2 separate regions of the Homo sapiens genome follow, and region 2 is linked to region 1. Evidence: fine-mapped expression QTL. Tissue or cell type: monocytes after Pam3CSK4. Region 1 holds a variant in brackets; the other region holds the start of a gene. All regions are shown on one strand. Distances are between the middles of the regions.

What was found. PIP is the estimated chance that this variant, and not a neighbour inherited with it, causes the effect.
Region 2: it holds the start of CCDC157, and the variant in region 1 is fine-mapped to the expression of CCDC157 in monocytes after Pam3CSK4 (Quach 2016, PIP 0.95).

What each region holds. Positions count from the first base shown.
Region 1 is chr22:30,381,703-30,384,457 of GRCh38, forward strand. RNF215 (ring finger protein 215) reads right to left here. Exons shown (of 9, transcript NM_001017981.2): 5 at 2,637-2,755. Among named protein-coding and RNA genes, the nearest start is that of RNF215, 4.3 kb to the right of the region's middle. The variant G/A (reference allele first, on the strand shown) is at 1,631.
Region 2 is chr22:30,355,458-30,357,957 of GRCh38, forward strand. CCDC157 (coiled-coil domain containing 157) reads left to right here and starts at 1,550. Exons shown (of 12, transcript NM_001017437.5): 1 at 1,550-1,675. It overlaps SF3A1 (splicing factor 3a subunit 1), which reads right to left and starts at 1,437. Exons shown (of 16, transcript NM_005877.6): 1 at 1,273-1,437. The coding sequence starts at 1,335. RefSeq lists a silencer at 1,134-1,383 and an enhancer at 2,319-2,500.

The DNA.
Region 1 (2,755 bases):
GAGGCCACCGCTCTAGACAAGCCTGGTGCTGCTAGTGCCACAAGCCATTGCTCTGCTCACAGTGGAGGTGCTCTGGGGGCCCTCACTGGGAAGTGTCTGTGAGCCCCAGCTCCCCTCTCCATCCTGCTCTCTTCTCTCCTCCAGCTGCAGCTGGGCAGTGCCACCTGTTCTAGGAAGCTGTCCCCAAGCTCCAGGCTGAGTGCCTTTATCATGCCCTAGAGGGTGCCGGGGCCACCACCAGCTCTGTGCTTACCCCAGCAGAGTGACAGCATGTCTCTGGCCTATCTGCTCTCCAGACTGGGCCCCCATGAGCCCAGGGCTGGAGCAGCCCACGTTGGCCAACACGTGCTGGGGGCTGTACACCAGGAGACCGGGGCATCACTGCCTGGCAGAGAAGTAACTCAAGAAATGCTTGGGGGCCAGCCGCGGTGGTTCATGCCTATAATCCCAGCACTTTGGGAGGCCGAGGTGGGCGGATCACCTGAGGTTGGGAGTTCGAGACTAGCCTGACCAACATGGAGAAACCCCGTCTCAACTAAAAATACAAAAAATTAGCCTGTGTGTGGTGGTGCATGCCTGTAGTCCCGCTTACTAGGGAGGCTGAGGTAGGAGAATCGCTTGAACCTGGGAGGCGGAGGCTGTGGTGAGCCGAGATTGCGCCATTGCACTCCAGCCTGGGCAACAAGAGCGAAACTCTGTCTCAAAAAAAAAAAAAAAAAGCTTGTGGACAGAATACCCTTGAATGCCCTTGATGCCAAGTGTTGGGTATTGGAAATCCAGAGATGATAAAACACAGCCCTGGCTGTCAGGAGACAAAGTGACACTCCCCTGAGCCCCATGCCAGGACTAAGTGGCCATTATGGCATAAGCTCTCCAGGGCAGAGCCTGCTGTAGAGCTCCATGCCTCAGAGCAGCCAGCTGGGTGGGCTGAAAGTGTGGCCGGCCTGAAGCTCCGCTGCAGGCCAAAGACCCAGCCTCCCCAGGCTCACTGCATCCTGGGGAGCCCTATGTGCCCCAGGTTCAGTGCATCTTGGGGAACACACCTTGCAGAGCCCCAGGTGAGGATGGAGGGCAGGATGGGAGCTTGCCATCAGAGCAGTAAGGACTGTTCATTAGCTGGGCATGGTGGTTCATCACGCCTGTAATCCCAGCACTTTGGGAGGCCGAGGTGGGCCGAATGCCTAAGCTCAGGAGTTCGAGACCAGCCTGGGCAACATAGTGAAACCCCATCTCTACAAAAAATACAAAAATTAGCTAGACATGGTGGCACGTGCCTGTAGTCCCAGCTACTTGGGGGACTGAGGTGGCAGGGTCACTTGAGCCCAGGAGGTCGAGGCTGCAGTGAGCCAAGATCGTGCCACTGCTGTTCATCAGACCTTCCTGATACATGAGTGTTGCTGCTCTGGACTCCCAGAGGCTGGAGGCACAGTGACTGGGCCCTGGGGTCAGGACTGAGAGCCCGATGCCCATCAGGCCAGCCACTGAGATGCCTCCTCCAGCCACCCTTCAGACACTTTAGTGGCCATGGCCACCCAATACTTGGGTTGGGACCACCTTGACCCCAGCCTGCAGCCTGGCCAAGGCTGCTCAGGTCTGCCCTCTTGAGCAGCCAGACCCACCTGCAGACTGC[G/A]CTCAGCCCCACCCCAAGCCTCTCACCAATGCCTGCCCTGTCCAGAGGCCTGTGTGGGCCACCCATGACAGGGATACACAGAGTACCGTCCCTGTTTGCAAATGAGGAACATGAGGCCAGAGAGGTGAAACTCCCAGCTGAGACCAGCCAGCTAAGGTTTCCAAGCCAGGATTTGATCCCAAGATTGCCCCACTTGAAGCTGCCCTGCACAGCCCACGGTGGCCAACACCTGCTGGAGGCTGTACACCAGGAGACCGGGACGTGACTGCCCAGCAGAGTAGGGACTCAAGAAATGCTTGTGGACAGAATACCCTTGAATGCCCTGATGCCAAGCGCTGGAAATCCAGAGACGATAAAACACAGTCCTGGCTGTCAGGAGACAAAGTGACGCGCCTCATCACATGCAGGATGGGCTGTCCCAAGAAGCCCATGGACGGCCTGACCACGCCTTGTTGTGATACAAAAGAGAGAGAGAGGGAGGGGACTTCAAGCTGGGGTGGGAGGGAGGCTTTCCAAAGAAACGTGGCAGGATGAGTTGTGAAGGTTCTAGCTAGACTAGGACGTGTGGACACAGAAAAGGTGTCCACGTCTACAGCCAGGTGTAGACAAGGCCCAGTGGCAGAAGGCCTGGGCATATGCAGTCATTGGTACAGGGTGGCCAGAGCATAGGAAAAAGGACTAGAAAAATAGAGTGAGTGAGTGATGCAGAGAGCTGGGAAAGCCACGCAGAGGGGTCTGAATTTTACAGGCAGTGGAATAAGGCTTCCCAATGCCTGCAGAACATGAGGACGGCAGCTAACACTGACTACATGTGACCTGGCCCAGGCGCCCCAACTGAGCGCCCACCTACACCATGTCTCTGAACACTCACAGCACTCCTGTGGGGTGGGAAAGGCCGTCCTTGTCACTAAGGTGGGGAGAAGCCACAGGATTTTCAATACAAAGCCATGTATATGGCCCCACGAGCCTCCTTTCCCTAGGCCCCATGTAATCTGCTAGCACCCACCTGCTCCTGGGCACGACTGCCTCCAAGGCAGACCAAGTCCTGCCATCCTCCATAGCCATCCTTGGAGAGGCCACAGGTGGTCCACAAGGTCAACTTCCACTCGATATTGGCAGACAGGG
Region 2 (2,500 bases), 26 kb before region 1:
CCTCTTTGGAATAGCGTGACTGGCCTCCCCTCATAGTGATTCTCCACACGTCTGCCTACCTGAATTTCTGAAACACAAATGTCACTATTTGGCTTAAAACACTCCCTTTTCTTCCCACTGTCTACAAGGAAAAGTTCAAATCCTAAGTAAGAATCGCATCTCCTGCCACTACGCTCCTAAGTCTATGCTTCAACACTTGTTCATTTACTCTTGATCAGAGACACCGTTTGATTCACCTCGGTGTCTTTGCGCATATTATCTGGCTATTACCTTATTTTCCCCCAATGCCTGGGAAAATGCCAGGGACACACGGGCACTTAAATATTTGTGGAAAAGGCATGGCTTCTTCAGTCATGTTCCCCCCCCCCGCCCCCCTTATTCTGAACCCAAAGCAATGATCAGCGTATGTGTTCAATAAATATTTGCTGGATGAATAAAGGATGCTATTTCCCTTCCCTAGTCACCTACCTGGCAAACTCCTATTCCTTCTTCTAAAAGAAATTTACCTCTCACTCTTGTGGGCTTCCCTACCTTAATATCCCTTCTAGCCCAGCAAACAATGTTCATTAGATTTGTACCTGAAACTTCTATCACAGGGCATATCACACCATACTACAATGGTTTGTGCACATTCGAGATTGGAGAGCTTTATTAAGGGCGGGCTGGCACTGTATCATCGATGGCCATTGGGACAACAAACATTTGGTGAGCATTCTCATATGTCTGTCTTCTCGTTAGCCTGTGAGCTCCCTAGGCAGGGACCATGCCCCATTCATTCCGGTAATGTGGGAGCCTGGCACGGTGTCTGGCTTGGGGCAGACACCGAAATAGATGCTGAGAATTAACATCCAAAGATGTACCGTGCAGGCTGGGAAATTAGCCATTACTGGGGAAAGGCTGTGGCCGGCGGCCCCAACTGCTACATAAGATCAGAGGATGGGCTGGATCAGCGCCTCTCGCACTTATAAATCAATCACCTTAGGATTTTGTTCAAATGTAGATTCCTATTTAAAAGATCTACGGCGGAGACTCCACATTTCTAAGAAGCTCCCGGCTCGTGCCGACGGGGCTGCTCCGCGGACCACTTAGAGAATCCCGTTCAGGGTGGCTCATTTCGCTACCAGAACACCACCATAGCGCGGGAAGCGCGCAGCCTCTTGGGACTTGCAGTCCCTCCAAGCCCTTCATAGCGGCCGGCCGCTTATTCCTGTGCGAGTAAGGAGCGCCCAGGCCAACCCTCCGGCTGCAGGCTGAGGGGCGGGGGAGAGGTACCTGTTTGGGCTCCGTGGGCACGGGCGGCGGCGGGGGCACCGCCTGCACGGGTCCGGCCGGCATGACTGCGACGCTCAGGGCTGCCAGTCCGCCTCGGTGTCGGTGAGCGGTGCCGCCTCAAGACAGCCTCCCCGCTCGGTCAGTACGACGAGCTCGCAAGATGGCGGCGGCCGAGCGAGTTGCGGCCGCGAAGGTACGACTGGCGCACTTCCGGGACCGTCCCCTCGCCGTGACGCGCTTCCCGCCCCTCCCCGCGGGCACCGCGGCGTCCGACGCCGTTGCCAAGGCAGCGGCCTGAGCGCCCGGCTAGGGCTTTTCGGGGATCCCGGTGGCCGCAGGCGCACCGGGGGCAGTTCCGGGAGCCGACCAGACACGAAGGCTGAAGCCGCGACGCCGAAGACAGGTGAGATGTTGTACGTCACCCGCCGGACCCCCGCCGCACTCACCTCGCGGCTCCTTTACTCCACAGGCCAGTACCTCGCTCCCTTCGACCCCGCCTTCCAAGAGCCCAGCTCCCTCCCATTGGTCTCTCATTTAGGAGAGCCCCTGTCCCCTCAGGCTCACCGCCTAAGAGCCCCACTTCCCTACTCCCTTAGTCCCCCCTTTCATTTCAGACCCACATCCTCCAAGCCCCGCTTCCAAATCCTACGCCCTTAATTCGCTTTTCCCACGGAACCTGCCTTTTCTTGCTTCCATCCCCTGCCTTCCGTAGTCCCGCCCTCAAGCCCCACTGGGGGCCTCCCTCTCAAATCAAGGCTGCTGCTTTCTTTGTCTTTCTTTTTTCTTTTTTTCTGAGACAAGGTCTTGCTCTGTCACCCAGGCTGGAGTGCAGTGGCGCGATCTTGACTCTCTGCAACCTCCGCCTCCCGAGTTCAAGCGATTCTCCTGCCTCAGCCTCCCGAGTGGCTGGGACTACAGGCGCCCACCACACCCGGCTAATTTTTTTTTTTTTTTTTTTGGCATTTTTAGTAGAGACGGGGTTTCACCATGCTGGCCAGGCTGGTCTGGAACTCCTGACCTCAAATGATCCGCCCGCCTCGGCTTCCCAAAGTGTTAGGGTTACAGGCGTGAGCCACCGCGCCCGGCCAGTTTTTAAATTTTTTTTTTTGTAGGGACATGGGAGGACGTCTCCCTATGTTGCCCAGGCTGGTCTCAAACTCCTGGGGTCAAGCGATCCTCCCGCCTTGGCCTCCCAAAGTGCTGGGATTACACGCATGAGCCATCACGC